2 separate regions of the Homo sapiens genome follow, and region 1 is linked to region 2. A link means that fine-mapping ties the variant in region 2 to the expression of a gene that starts in the linked region. Tissue or cell type: skeletal muscle. Region 2 holds a variant in brackets; the other region holds the start of a gene. All regions are shown on one strand. Distances are between the middles of the regions.

What was found. PIP is the estimated chance that this variant, and not a neighbour inherited with it, causes the effect.
Region 1: MAPKAPK3 starts here. The variant in region 2 is fine-mapped to the expression of MAPKAPK3 in skeletal muscle (FUSION, PIP 0.95).

What each region holds. Positions count from the first base shown.
Region 1 is chr3:50,613,049-50,621,153 of GRCh38, forward strand. MAPKAPK3 (MAPK activated protein kinase 3) reads left to right here and starts at 4,103. Exons shown (of 11, transcript NM_001243925.2): 1 at 4,103-4,193; 2 at 4,466-4,736. The coding sequence starts at 4,518. RefSeq lists enhancers at 2,866-2,955, 3,823-4,776, 4,777-5,729 and silencers at 4,047-4,096, 4,107-4,156, 4,407-4,556.
Region 2 is chr3:50,881,684-50,889,788 of GRCh38, forward strand. The region is part of intron 3 of DOCK3 (dedicator of cytokinesis 3); the gene reads left to right. Among named protein-coding and RNA genes, the nearest start is that of MIR4787, 210 kb to the left of the region's middle. The variant GT/G (reference allele first, on the strand shown) is at 3,681.

The sequences.
Region 1 (8,105 bases), 270 kb before region 2:
TAGGGTCTGTGAATCTCCTCCAAACCCTTGGGCCAGAAGAACTGTGGGATTTGGAGAGGTTGCAGGGTCCACTCCCCACCCCCATCCCCCTCCCAGTGTGTGCCCCCAGGGTCCCCAGAAAGGAGTCTAGCTCTGAGATCCTGGGCAGGGATGACAGACCCCTGGCCTTGTTGAAGGGCCTGAACGATAGCATCCAGGGAAGACAGGGCTCAGTTTGCTCTGCCCAGAATGGCAGAGGGCAAAAGAAACCTGAAAGCAAAACCCTGTGAAACTGGGGAAAAAACGTTAAGTTTCAGATTTCAGGGCAGTCACTTCTCTGTAGCTTTCCTGAAGGGAAGCCGGGCTTCATGAGTGCAACTCTGCCAGCCCCCTCCTGAGTTGGCCAGAAGCCACTTTCTTGGAATGGGGGTAGGGGGGATGGATACCTTATAACCCACTTTGAGGGCTGGGATACCTGGATAGCCTGATATGCGGCCCCTGTGTGGACCACTGACTTGCCAGTAGGAACTGTCCACTGTCTCATTACTATGAAGACAAAAGGACTTTGCCGCTGCCAGGCAACAGAGTTACAATTTTGAACTTGGGTCTCTTATGGGGCCAAATCCCAAGCTCTCTACCAAAACTATACTTCTTCCCCCTCACCATGACTATTCAACTGAACACTTACTATGTGTCAAGCACTCTCAGCAATTTGCAGCCTCATGTCATTGTCACAACTACCACATATTATCTCCTCTTTACAGGTGAGAAAACTGAGGCATGGAGAGGTTACAATATAACTTAGATCTCCCAGCTGGCAAGTAATGGTTTAAGCCAGGAGCCTACACACTTCCTCCTACTTCCTCTATGGGTGCTGGTGATCTGCCGACTCCTAGACATCCAGCTTTAAGGTCCTCAGTGAAGCTTCTCTGCCCCCAGGCCTGTCCATGTCAGAGCACCATGGGTGTCCCTTTGAAAGTATCTCCTACAGGTCAGTGATTATGCAGTCTATGTGTAAACCAAAGGGTTCCAAGGGTTTTGGCCTTCCAACTATTTTTGTGTGTGTGTGAATATGACAGCACTGTGCACCTCACCTGCATGCTGGGAACAGTGATGTGCCCCTGTTCTGCCCCAAGTACTAAGTTGGGTCCCTCTGGCCAACTTAGTACTTAATTCTCCTGCCCTGGCTGCTCCCTAGAAACCCTGGCTCTGATTGCTGGGCCCACACTGCCACCTAGCGGTGCCCCCTCTCATGCCCTCACTAGCCAAATTTCCATAGATTCTTCTCTTCTAGGATAATCCCTCTCCTGCACCCCAGGGATTGAACTTACTGCAAGATTCCCCTGCCACTCCCTACCCAGAACAATCACAAGATGAATCACAAGAATACACAGCAGTGCCTTCCCAAAAGTCTCGCTCATTTGGCCTCCATCCTCTCACCATGTACAGCCTCCCCTCTCCAGTAAGGACAGAGTGTGTGTGTGTGTGTGTGTGTGTGTGTGTGTGTGTGTGTGTAGGATTTAGCCCCCCTCACTTTAAGCTATTCCAAAGTCTCTGTCCCCTTGGACACACAGCTACATGAAGGGCTGTGTGGCAGAGTCTGCCATCATGAACCCACTCCTGACCAGACCTAGCCATCCTGCATGCCAAATCCTCCCATCATTGTGGAGGGGATGCTGCAGGTGGTTGCTGGAACATGAGCACTAAGGGAAACCACATATTCTGACTTTCCTGGGCTAAGTGAGTAGTTTCAAGGCATCTCTCCGATGGACCCATGTGGGGAATGCGTGTGCCTGTGGAAGCATGGACACTGGTTATAGGGACTGGGAGGGGAGAAGCAGCACCTTTGCCTTACTTTTCATACTTCTGTATAATTTGAATTAATTACAATGAGGAAGTTTTACTTATGCAACTTAAAATTTTAATAAAAGAGACCAGCTTAAAAAATACAATTATAAAATTTGTAGAGCAATTATAATCTAATTCCATTTTAAAGAAAGAAGACATCTTCACAGAACATTCAGTGGGATGCCTTTGGCTGGGGCAAGGAGCCAGCCTCCACCCTCAGCTGCCTAGCCTTCTGCTCACCAGAATGACATCTTGCTCAGCCTCAGGTTCACCAGGCTCAAACTAGTTGCCTTCAGAGAGCAGAGAGCCTTCTTTGGCTCCCCCCAGCAGTAGAAGATTCCAGATCATAGGGCTTTCAAAGAGGCTCTGAGATCTTGAATCAGATTCTCAGGTTGGGCTCAGGGACATCAATCCTGGGTCCAGCTGGGCATAAATGCATGTGTGTGTGCACATGTGCATGTGTATCTGTGTGCATGTGTGTTATATGCATGTGTGTTTATACGTGTTATATGCATGTGTGTGCACATGTGTAAAGGTGTGACTGCATGTGTACATGTGTGAGAGTATGTTTGCACATGTGGCTGTGTGAGGAGCCAGAAAGGACTAGGAGAGGAGGCCATGGTTTGAGGATAAGAGCCCAGCCCTGAGGTTGTGCTTTGGAGTTGGAATGGGGGCTCTGTCATGACAGCTGCTGACCTCAGACAGGTCACTTAACCTCTCTGGGCTTTTCTGTCCTGTGTGTCTGTAGTGTGGGGCAGAAGGGATAGTGTGACCTCCTCTAGGCTCTGTAAGGTCAGGGGGTTGCAGGGAGAGCACATTCCCAGCATCTGGTCTGCAAGAAGTGTTCACTATGGCCAGCTGAGGCTATTGTCTGGAGCCTCCTGCTTCACTGAACACTGCTAGCTTGAAGGTTGCCTGAAAGAAATAGGGGCAGAGCCCCAACCCCATCTCCACTCAACATCTGCACACAGTGGGTACCCACTAATAAGTTGTAGCACCCTTTCAGTCACTCATTCACTCATTCATTGACAGAAGATCATCTTTCCAAGAGCTACTTCTCTGATGAGCCTGCACATGCAGCCCAGGGGTCCGTGAGTGTGCGTGTGTTAACCAGAGGGGCTGAGGGGGAGGCGCTCACTGGGCCTAAATTCCGGAGCCAAGAGTAGGATGGCTGGAAGACGCCTCTGAGTGGAACCGAGGTCCTGGTACCTGCAGTCCTGTAGATGGCCTGTAGATGACAGCAGAGGCCCATGCAGAGCCCCTGCGCTGAGCCGCACCTTCCCAGTTCCAAGTGAGCCAGCTCGCTCAGGTCCCTCAGCTTCCGGATTGGGGGAGTGATGTGATGTGCGCAAGTAGTTCAGATCTGTCCCAGAAGACAGCCACAGCCACCCTCCCTATGGCTCTAGACAAGTTGTTTTCTCCCCAGGGGTCCCAGTTTCCTCATCTGTGAAATGAGAGTTGCTTAACAGCCGGTGTTGGGAAAACTGGCTCAAAATACGTAAGGTAGTCTAAGATGGGCTTAACAGAGACTTATATGTGCAAGGCAAAACTAGAAAGCTAATGGAGAATATCTGTCACTCGGATGGGAGACAGAGACTTTTTAAACACGACGCCAAAAGCCCAAACCATAAGGTGAAATGTTGGCGGATCTGATCAAATGGCAACTCGGGATTTCTGGTCCCCAGGATGCTGTATATACCAAAGGGAAGCAGCGAGTCAAGGGCATAAGCGGGAGCTGCAAAAAGGGGGCAGTCGCCAGTGCTGGAGACTCCCAGAGCCACCAGAGACTAAAGAGTGGCGAATTCAACAACGACAAGATGCCACCTCCCTCGGCATGTTTAAAAAGTTGAGTACGCTGAGGGTTGGCCAACACTAGGCAAGTCGGAAGCCTAGCAAGCCATACTGGAGGGCCACCTGGCAGCGTGCAGAGCAAACACCCGACTCAAGGAGAGCTTTCAAGAGAAATAAGACGTCCTGCGCTGTCACGTTCTAGGTTGCGAGTAAAACCCGGGACCCGCACAGTAGCGGACTGCCAGTACAGGGGCCTCCCTGGGTGTCCCTGGAAACCGAGGAAGTAACCGCCCCCTCGGGAAGCCACGCCTCCTATTTTGTTCCGGCTCGGGGGCGGGACCCAGCCGGGGCCCGCCTGGCCCTTTAAGGCTGACCTAGCGGGGCCCCAAGTTGGGATGACGCGCAGGGAGCGGGGGGTGGAGTGGGGGAGTGGGGGAGGGGGGGGTGGGGAGGGGGGGGAGGTCACGTGGGCGCCGGCAGCGCGACTCTCGGCCCTGGGATTTCTGCGGCCGCCAGCTCCCGCGACCGCCTCTCCTGCCCCTCGCCGGTACCTCAGCAAGGTGCGTTGCCGCCAGGTACGCCCTCGCTGGGCCCCCTCTGCGGCCTCCTCCGGGGACCTCGCGGCCATTAGGCGCCCGGCCCCTTCCCTTCTTGACACGTGCCCGGGCGGTGCTCGCTTGTACCCCGCCGCGCGACCACCGCCCCTTGCTGCACGTCTGTACTCTCAGGCCGTTCGTCCCGCACTCCCAGCTTGCCCCGGGCTCGCAGCCCAGCCCAGTTCAGAGGCTCCAAGGCTGGGGTGTGTTGGAAAAGTCTGGGCGGGACTCACTCTTCCCCTTTCCCCCAGGTGCCACTAGAAGCGCCAGGCTGGGGCCGCCTCTGAGCGCCCCGCGGGGGCCATGGATGGTGAAACAGCAGAGGAGCAGGGGGGCCCTGTGCCCCCGCCAGTTGCACCCGGCGGACCCGGCTTGGGCGGTGCTCCGGGGGGGCGGCGGGAGCCCAAGAAGTACGCAGTGACCGACGACTACCAGTTGTCCAAGCAGGTGCTGGGCCTGGGTGTGAACGGCAAAGTGCTGGAGTGCTTCCATCGGCGCACTGGACAGAAGTGTGCCCTGAAGGTCAGTGAGCCCTCACTGAGGCCTGGGGTATCCTGGAGGGTCCACAGCGGAAGCCTGTGAGTGAAGCTATGTCTAGCGCCCCTGCTAAGCTTCCTATGCTCAGCAACATGTTTCATCGTCATACTGTCCTGTAAGGTCAGGCTTGTGGTCCTCCCTACTTCACAGATGGGGAAACTGAGGCGTAGCCTAGCTAAGCTTTGAGTGTCCCAGTGAGCAAGGGGTGGAGTCACTATGGCTAGAGATGCTGTATCCGGAAGCAGGGAAGGGGTGACTCCTGACTCTGGGATTCTGGCTGGACCCATGTGTTCAGGCCCAAAGGGGATCTCTTGTTCAGCTTGGCTGCCCCTTCCATGTGAAGCTCCTCTGACTGGAATGGATCTGTTTCCCTTTGCTGGAAGCTGAGACCCCACCAAGGCTTGGGTGGGACTGCTTCTTCCCTGTGGCCCCTGCCTGTCTGGGCTGGAGTGGTGTGAGCCTCCCAGGGCTGGCCAGAGGACAAGGCTGATGCCCACTGCACCTGTGGAGCCTCAGGAGGCTGCTGATAGACTCCTGACGAGTCGCTGGTCCCGTGTTGAAAGGGACAGGCCCTGGGCCAACCCACCCCTGGTTCCTGGGCAGAGGGCGGGCCAGCCATCTAGCCACCTCAGACTATAGGCTCCCTGGAGACCTGGCATGCTGATATAGGTGGCATGGTGGGGGTCAGGGGGATGCTGGGGGCGGGTACCTGGTTCCAGCTTAAGGCATACAGTTCTGGGCCTAGGGCCACACCCCATACCCAGAATCCCTTGAATCTGTCATCTCTGGGGTCTTTACTCATTTGTAGCTTGTGCCAATGGATGGGTAGAGCATGGCAGGGATAGTGGCTCCTGGAGGCTAGAAGTACAGCAAAGGCCCTTCTCATTTTACAAAAGATTTTTTTTTTTTGAGGCAGAGTCTCACTCTGTCGCCAGGCTGGAGTGCAGTGGCACAATCTCAGCTCACTGCAACCTCCACCTCCCAGGTTCAAGCGATTTTACTGCCTCAGCCTCCTGAGTAGCTGGGACTACAGGCGTGCGCCACCACGCCCAGCTAATTTTTTGTATTTTTAGTAGAGACAGGGTTTCACCATGTTGGCCAGGATGGTCTCGATCTCTTGACCTCGTGATCTGCCTGCCTTGGCCTCCCAAAGTGCTGGGATTACAGGCGTGAGCCACCGTGCCCGGCCTTTACACAAGTTTTAATTATGAGTCCAAGTGCAGAGTCCTCTAGATATGGCTAATAGCTATCCTGTGTTTGCCAGTTTCATGACCTTGGATGATATCCTAGACTCTGGAAGCCAGGTTTCTGCATCTATTCATGGGGAAAGATAAGGAGTTGTTGTGAACATGAAATGAGATTATACATTTAAAGCACTTGGTACAGGACCTGATACAGGTCTGGAGAGGTTACAGGACTTATTTAAGGCACAAGGTCTTAAAGCATCTGAGCAGGGAGCTGGACCCAGCTCTCTGTGTCTTTCCCAGGACCACTAGGGCCAACAGAGGAGGTTGTCTCCCCGGAGTACCTTGGAGGGGAACATGCGGGTGGGTCTAGGAGAGGATCAGGGTTGGGCTGGTGGGGCTGGGCCCCAGGTATAGCTTCTTTGCCCACTAACCCAGCAGTCGAATGGGGTCGGGGAGCTTTTCAGAGTATCAGGAATGGGATTCTCTGAGTCTTTTAGGGAAAAAGTGGCTCTTCTGAGGGCAGACGGGGGTAAGAGGATGAGGAATGAGAGTTTTCATCCCCCTCTGGGCACTATTTAACCTTCCACCTGTGCTAGGATTGAGGGCAGGCTGGGTGGGTGAGGGATTGAGGCCAGAGACCCACTTCTTAATACCAAGGCTTTGACCCTGTGGGCCAAGACTGAGCTCTGACCAGCCCCTGTGGTGTCCAGATGCTGTGGGTGAGTCAGGGATGGGGTGGGAGACCAGAATTTGTAGGCCCACACAGTGCCAGCTTTAAGTAAGACTGGACTTAACCCCTTCCCCATAGATGCTATGTCTGATGAGTGACTTGGGGTAACTTCTGACTGCAAGAACTTCCACAGCACCTCATCAGTGCTCTCCTTGTTCTGGACTGGGAATTGGGTCAGGCCTGGAGTGGATTTCCCTCTGTACCCCTTTATGGGTGAGCATGGCTAAGGCTACTAGCTTGGGACCTTCAGGATCTGGCCCTAAATTGGCCCTCAAAGGGGACATGGATTAGATGTGGCTCCCACTCCAGGACCTTCCTGTTCTTAGTATCACTAGTGACCAAGCCTAGAAGTCCTTACCCAGCTAAGCAGGCATTTACTATCTCCCAATATTGGGCTAAGCACAACCTCTGGTACAGTTATTTTACCTGTCTTGTGAGTGGTAGCTGTGGCCACGAGGAGGAAGGTGACATCTCCCCACTTATAGCTTCTGCCCATTGCCCAGGAAGACCAGGACCTGGGGACCTCAGTACATGGGCAGGCCTGGGCCCAGGGAGCTTAGCCAGCTCATGATGGATCACAGTCCTCTCCTTGCATCTGCCTAGCCCTCTCCCCGCAGTTGCCCCAGCTCAGCCTAGGCAACAGTCGTGGGCTCTGTGTCTTTCTGCCTCCCTGGTGATGTACTCCAGGTTAACCAGGGTGGCCTGTCCTCATCTTATAACTTGACCTTGTTCAGGCCATCTCTGCCCATTTGTCTCATGCTCATCCTCTTGGCTCTGTTGCCCAAGATGGAAGATAGTGCTTAACAGGAAGCCTGAAACTCAGCAAACACTCATAAAACAGGAAGAGCTGTGGCCACTGTCCTTGTAACTGTTGCTATTCTGTGGAGGCCCTAGAGGAGCAGGTCCCTCCCTCCCAGGGAGCTGGGCCTCTTCCGCTTTCCCTTAGCCCCTGACCACCTGCTTGGTTCATCTTGGCCTCAGTCATACTCAGTGGCTCCCTCCCAAGGCTACCTTCTGCTGCCAGTGCAGCCATTCTACTCCATTGTACCCCAAGCCCTCATTGCTGTCCTCTTGGCAGGAACTGGAGGACTGCCTTTCTTGGAGAGGGTGTATGGGCCAGGCGGTCCTCCAGTGTCTGCTTCTCCTGCTGACCTCTTGCTTGTGCCCTCTCCCAGGCTTAACTAGTTAATTAGTACCTTCAGCTTTCCCTCTAACTGGGCACAGCCCTGCAGATTTGTCACACATCAGTTACCCCACCACATCCAAGATCCAGTCCTTCAAACTTTATCACATACATGAAAATTGGGACCCAAAGTGAGTCACACGGTTTGAAGTGGGGGGTGTAGCAGAGGCCCGAATTTTCTCCCCTCCTGACATCCTGCCCAGCCCTCTTGTGGTTTTTGGCCTCTTGGCAGGCAGAAGTGACCATGGCACTTA
Region 2 (8,105 bases):
TACTGCCCAAGGTAATTTATAGATTCAATGCTGTCCCCATCATGTGACCAATGCCTTTCTTCACAGAATTGGAAAAAACTACTTTAAAGTTTATATGGAACCAAAAAGGAGCCCGCATTGCCCAGACAATCCTCAGCCAAAAGAACAAAGCTGGAGGCATCATGCTACCTTATTTCAGACTATACTACAAGTCTACAGTAACCAACACAGCATGGTACTGGGACCAAAACAGAGATATAGACCAATGGAATAGAATAGAGCCCTCGGAAATAATACCACACGTCTACAACCATCTGCTCTTTGACAAACCTGACAAAGACAAGCAATGGGGAAAGAATTCCCTATTTAATAAATGGTGCTCGGAAAACTGGCTAGCCATACATAGAAAGCTGAAACTGGATCCCTTCCTTACACCTTTTACAAGAATTAATTCAAGATGGATTGAAGACTTAAACCTTAGACCTAAAACCATAAGAACCCTAGAAGAAAACCTAGGCAATACCATTCAGGATATAGGCATGGGCAAGGACTTCATGATTAAAACAACAAAATCAGTGGCAACAAAAGCCAAAATAGACAAATGGGATCTAATTAAACTAAAGAGCTTCTGCACAGCAAAAGAAACTACCATCAGAGTGAACAAGCAACTTACAGAATGGGAGAACAGTTTTACAATCTACCCATCTGACAAAGGGCTAATATCCAGAATCTACAAAGAACTTAAACAAATTTACAAGAAAAAATCAAACAACCCCATCAAAAAGTGGGCAAAGGCTATGAACAGACACTTCTCAAAAGAAGACATTTATGCAGCCAACAGACACGTGAAAAAATGCTCATCATCACTGGCCATCAGAGAAATGCAAATCAAAACCACAATGAGATCCCATCACACACCAGTTAGAATGGCGATCATTAAAAAGTCAGGAAACAACAGGTATTGGAGAAGTTGTGGAGAAATAGGAGCACTTTTACACTGTTGGTGGGACTGTAAACTAGTTCAACCATTGTGGAAGACAGTGTGGAGATTCCTCAGGGGTCTAGAACTAGAAGTAACATTTGACCCAGCCATCCCATTACTGGACATATACCCAAAGGATTATAAATCATGCTGCTATAAAGACACATGCACACATATGTTTATTGCAGCACTATTCACAATAGCAAAAACTTGTAACCAACCCAAATGTCCATCAATGATAGACTGGATTAAGAAAATGTGGCACATATACACCATGGAATACTATGCAGCCATGAAAAAGGATGAGTTCATGTCCTTTGGAGGGAGATGGATGAAGCTGGAAACCATCACTCTGAGCAAACTATTGCAAGGACAGAAAACCAAACACTGCATGTTCTCACTCATAGGTGGGAATTGAACCATGAGAACACTTGGACACAGGGTGGGGAACATCACACACCAGGGCCTGTCGTGGGGTGGGGGAATGGGGGAGGGATAGCATTGGGAGATATACCTAATACAAATGATGAGTTAACAGGTGCAGCACACCAACATGGCACATGTATACATATGTAACAAACCTGCACGTTGTGCACATGTACCCTAGAACTTGAAGTATTAAAAAAAAAAGGCCATTTTGCTAGATATCTGTGAATGGCAAATAATCACGCACAAGGAGAAGTTTTTTCTTTATAAAAAAAAATGTTTGCTTCAACCATCAAACCTAATTAAGAAAATTCAAGAGAAAAATGAATGTCTATTATATTTACCCATGGGTTTGCTTACATTTTTTGTTTTTTCTTAGTGTAGTTCCATGGTTTTTTGTTTTATCATTTTCTTTCTGCTTAGAGAATTTTCATTCACTACTTTTTTTTAGGGTATTTCTGTTGATGACAAATTCTTTTTGTTTTCCTTCATCTGAAAATGTTTTGATTTGTCTTCCATTCCTGAAATGTATTTTTGGTAGATATAATATTCTAGATTGACAGTGCTTTTCTTTCAGCATTTGACAAATGTGCCACTTCCTTCTGTCTTCTATATTTTCATTGAAAATTATAGAAATTTGTATTTTAAATATTTTATACTTATTTTTCAAAAATCTAGAATGTAAAATACACATAACGTTTACCATGAGTGACATTTAGTACATGCATAATGTTTTACAAACATCACCATTATTATGTTTCAAAATGTTTTCATTTCCACAAACAGAAACTTCCAAGCCCATTAAGTGGCCATACTTTTTCATCCTCCTGCTGCTGACAACCATATGACTTCTTTCTGTCTCTGTGTATTTGCCTATTCTGAATATTTCATGTAAATGAAATTATATAATAGGTGTCTTTTGCATCTGCCTTCTTTCATTCAGCATAATGTTTTCTGAGTTCATTCATGTACGTTCCTTTTTATGGCTGAATAAGATTTCACTGCAAGTATATACCATTCTTTTTTTTTTTTTTTAATTTTTGATATGGAGTCTCGCTCTTTCAGGCTGGAGTGCAGTGGCGCCATCTCGCCTCACTGCAAACTCTGCCTCCTGGGTTCAAGCGATTCTCCTGTCTCAGCCTCCTGATTAGCTAGGATTACAGGCATCCACCACCACGGCCAGCTAATTTTTGTAGTTTTAGTAGAGACAGGATTTCGCCATGTTGGCAAAGCTGGTCTTGAACTCCTGACCTCAGGTGATTTGCCCGCCTTGGCCTCTCAAAGTGCTGAGATTACAGGCATGAGCCACCATGCCTGGCTGGATATATACCATTCAATAATATGAACAGCTCATTTATTTATCAGTTGATAGACATCTGGGTTGTAAACAGCTTTTGGCTATTGTAACTGGTGCTGCTGTCTTTTATGGTTTTGATGAAAAATCTGCTGATAATTCAGATAGGTTTTTTTCACTATAGGTAAGGTGTTGTTTCTCTCTTGTCAATTTTTTTCTTTGCCCATGGTATTCCAAAGTGACTATGTTGTAACTTGTGTATTTCCTTGGTTTTCTTCCTGCTTGGGATTCATTCAGCTTCTTGAATGTGTACGTTTATGTCTTTTTCCAAATTTGGAAAGTTTTGTGTCATTTTTAAAATTTTACATTTCAAATTAGACTTTTTTTTTTAAAGAGTTTTAGGTTTCCAAAAACATTGTGCAGAAAGTACAGGGTTTTCCTCCCCGCCCCCCACAGTTTTCCTATTATTAATATCCTGCATTAGTGTGGAACATTTGTTATAATGGATGAACCAGTATTGATACACTATTAATATTATTTGTTATTGACATTAGGGTTTACTCTTTGTGTTGTACCATCCTAAGGGTTTTACCAAATGCACAATGTCATGTAGCTATCATTACGGTACCATACAGAATAGTTTCACTGTCCTAACAATGTCCTTGTGTGCCACCTGTTCATCCTTTCCCACTTCCCCTAGGAACCTTGGCAACAACTGTGTTTTTTACTGTCTCTATGGTTTTGCTTTTTCTAGAATATCATATAGGTGGAGTCATACAGTATGTGGCCTTTCAGATTGATTTCTTTCACTTAGCAATATGCAGTTAATGTTTTCCCCATGTTTTTGTGGCTTTGTAGCTCATTTCTTTTTATTGCTGAATCATATTTCATTGTATGGATGTGCTACAGTTTGCTTATCCATTCACCTGTTGAAGGACATCGTAGTTTCTTCCAAGTCTTGGCATTTATGAAGAAAAATGGTATAAGCTTTTGTATGCA[GT/G]TTTTTTTTTTTTTTTTGTATGGGCATCATCTTTTCAACTCATTTGGGTAAATACCTAGGTGTGTAATTGCTGGATCATATGGTAAGGCTATGTTTAGTTTTGTATGAAACTGCCAGTGTCTTTTAAAGTGACTATACCATTTTGCATTCGTACCAGCAATGAATGAGGTTGAGTCACATCCTCACTAGTATGCCATTATTTCTTCATGTACTTTTTCAGTCCAACTGTCCCATTGGGCAGTTCTGATACCACCAGAGAAGGCTGACGGAGGGAGTCCTATTAATGCTGGTTAGGGGTGGAAGTCCAGATAATCCAGGCAATCTCCACTGCCACTGTGTGGTGGGAGCTTGTTATTACCTACTGGAGTAGAAGGTTTTGGGGTCCCTAAACAGTCAGCCACCTCTTACGTTACCCCAATGTGGGTTTGAGTGCTTCGTTACTGCCTGATGGTGGTGAAAGTCTAGTATCTCCAATTGACCTTACTCGTGTGGGTGGGGATTAGGTCACAGTTTTTTGGTGTGGGGGGCAGAGGGGGTTGCTGTTTGACAGCAGGGTAGTGGTTATTGTTTAAAAGTTTTCTGTCTTAATAGGATGACCTTTTCCTGGTTCTTTGGCTAGAGAGAGCAAGTTTTTGTTGGAGTTTCTTTCTGTCTGTTCCTGTTGGTATTTCCAGGTTTCCAGCTTCTTCACTTTAAAATAGCCTGATACATATGGCAAAAAGATAAACTAGGGAATTCACCACTATGTTATTTTGTGTCTCCCACATTCCCTAGTTGGTCTGCCTTCTTCTTTCCGCCTTTCAGAATATTTTTTATTTTGGAGATATATATATATATATATATATTCCAGAGTTTTTAGGTATGCACTAGGTGTTATTTGGAGAAATACTGAAAAGTATGTTTATTTCATCTTCCCAGAAGTGTATGCCAAGCATGTATATTTTAAAGATTTTTACTATCAATTGTTTTTTTAAAAACAGATAAACGATAGTCATCATTTAGCTATGGTTACGTGCAGTTGCTTTTTAAATCCTTTTTTTAAAAAATTTTATTATTATTATACTTTAAGTTTTAGGGTACATGTGCACAATGTGCAGGTTAGTTACATATGTATACATGTGCCATGCTGGTGCGCTGCACCCACTAACTGGTCATCTAGCATTAGGTATATCTCCCAATGCTATCCCTCCCCCCTCCCCCCACCCCACCACAGTCCCCAGAGTGTGATGTTCCCCTTCCTGTGTCCATGTGTTCTCATTGTTCAATTCCCATCTATGAGTGAGAACATGTATGTGGTGTTTGATTTTTTGTCCTTGCGATAGTTTACTGAGAATGATGATTTCCAATTTCATCCATGTCCCTACAAAGGACATGAACTCATCATTTTTTATGATGACTACTGGGTACATAATGAAATGAAGGCAGAAATAAAGATGTTCTTTGAAACCAGAGAGAACAAAGACACAACATACCAGAATCTCTGGGATACATTAAAAGCAATGTGTAGTGGGAAATTTGTGCACTAAATGCCCACAAGAGAAAGCAGGAAAGATCCAAAATTGACACCCTAACATCACAATTAAAAGAACTAGAAAAGCAAGAGCAAACACATTCAAAAGCTAGCAGAAGGCAAGAAATAACCCAAATCAGAGCAGAACTGAAGGAAATAGAGACACAAAAAACCCTTCAAAAAATTAATGAATCCAGGAGCTGGTTTTTTGAAAAGATCAACAAAATTGATAGACTGCTAGCAAGACTAATAAAGAAGAAAAGAGAGAAGAATCAAATAGACGCAATAAAAAATGATAAAGGGGATATCACCACCGATCCCACAGAAATACAAACTACCATCAGAGAATACTACAAACACCTCTATGCAAATAAACTAGAAAATCTAGAAGAAATGGATAAATTTCTGGACACATACACCCTCCCAAGACTAAACCAGGAAGAAGTCGAATCCCTGAAGAGGCCAATAACAAGTTCTGAAATGGAGACAGTAATTAATAGCCTACCAACCAATAAAAGCCCAGGACCAGAAAGATTCACAGCCAAATTCTATCAGGGGTACAAAGAGGAGCTGGTACCATTCCTTCTACAAACTATTCCAAAAAACTGAAAAAGAGTGACTCCTCCCTAACTCATTTTATGAGGCCAGCATCATCCTGATACCAAAACCTGGCAGAGACACAACAAAAAGAGAAAATTTTAGGCCAATATACCTGATGAACATCGATGTGAAAATCCTCAGTAAAATACTGGCAAAACGAATCCAGCAGCACGTCAAAAAGCTTATCCACCATGATCAAGTCGGCTTCATCCCTGGGATGCAAGCCTGGTTCAACATACACAAATCAATAAACATAATCCATCACATAAACAGAACCAATGATAAAAACCACATGATTATCTCAATAGATGCAGAAAAGGTCTCCAATAAAATTCTACACCCCTTTAGGCTAAAAACACTCAATAAACTATACCGATTGAACGTATCTCAAAATAATAAGAGCTATTTATGAACCCACAGCCAATGTCATACTGAATGGGCAAAAACTGGAAGTATTCACTTTGAACACTGGCACAAGACAGGGATGCCCTCTCTCACCACTCCTGTTCAACATAGTGTTGGAAGTTCTGGCCAGGGCAATTCGGCAGGAGAAAGAAATAAAGGATATTCAATTAGGAAAAGAGGAAGTCAAATTGTCCCTGTTTGCAGATGACATGATTGTATATCTAGAAAACCCCATTGTGTCAGCCCAAAATCTCCTTAAGCTGATAAGCAACTTCAGCAAAGTCTCAGGATACAAAATCAATGTACAAAAATCACAAGCATTCTTATACACCAATAACAGACAAACAGAGAGCCAAATCATGAGTAAACTCCCATTCACAATTGCGTCAAAGAGAATAAAATACCTAGGAATCCAACTTACAAGGGATGTGAAGGACCTCTTCAAGGAGAACTACAAACCACTGCTCAAGGAAATAAGAGAGGATACAAATAAATGGAAAAACATTCCATGCTCATGGGTAGGAAGAATGCATATCGTGAAAATGGCCATACTGCCCAAGGTAATTTATAGATTCAATGCCATCCTCATCAAGCTACCAATGACTTTCTTCACAGAATTGGAAAAAACTACTTTAAAGTTCATATGGAACCAAAGAAGAGCCCGCATCGCCAAGTCAATCCTAAGCCGAAAGAACAAAGCTGGAGGCATCATGCTACCTGACTTCAAACTATACTACAAGGCTACAGTAACCAAAACAGCATGGTACTGGTACCAAAACAGAGATATAGATCAATGGAACAGAACAGAGCCCTCAGAAATAACTCCGCATATCTACAACTATCTGATCTTTGACAAACCTGAGAAAAACAAGCAATGGGGAAAGGATGCCCTATTTAATAAATGGTGCTGGGAAAACTGGCTAGCCATATGTAGAAAGCTGAAACTGGATCCCTTTCTTACACCTTATACAAAAATTAATTCAAGATGGATTAAAGATTAAAGACTTAAATCCTTTTTTTAAGTCTCTATATTCTCCCATATTAGGATTTTACGTTACTATATGCTGTCTTTTATTATGAGCCAAAATACAAAACTCATTACTGTAGTCTAATTGCTTATAGCCTTCATTTGGGTGATTATTGGTGGTAGTGTGGGCCAAAGAGTATAAAATATATTTAAGCCATGGGTGTGTGTGTGTGTGTGTGTGTGTGTGTGTGTGTGTGTGTGTGTGTTTAAGACAGGTTCTTGCTCTGTCATATAGGCTGGAGTATAGTGGTGCTATCATAGCTCACTGTAGCCCCAAACTTCTGGGCTCAAGTCATCCTCCCAAGTAGCTAGGACTACAGGTGTGCACCACCACACCTGGCTAACTTTCTAATTGTTTGTAGAGACAGGATCTTGCTATGTTGCCCAGACTAGTCATGGAGTCCTGGCCTCTAACAGTTCTCCCACTTTAGGCTCCTAAAGCACTGGGATTACAAGCATGAGCCGCCAAACCTGTAAGCCATTCATGTTTTATTTAAAGAGCATTTTATACATCAGGAGATGGGGGCGAAACATTGATTGGAAAACTGATGTGGTTTTTTTTTTTTTTTAAATACGCTACTTATTCTTTAGGAATTGAAATCAAATTATGGTAAACAACAAAGTAGAAACAGTTTTGGAAAGAGTAAAAGAAGACATATTTTAGAAGTTCTTGAATTGATTCACTCCTGTGAATATTAATGTTAGCTAGAGTCTGAGAATTGTTTTTCTAGCTCAGAGCTAGATAATCTGTAAGTTGTTGGTTAGATGATGATATTAGTTTTGGAGATACATGACAAGTTCTGTACACAATACTGTTTCTGGAGAGTGAATTGATGGACCATCTCTAATCTACAACTCTTTTAAAATTAAAATTTAAAGTTT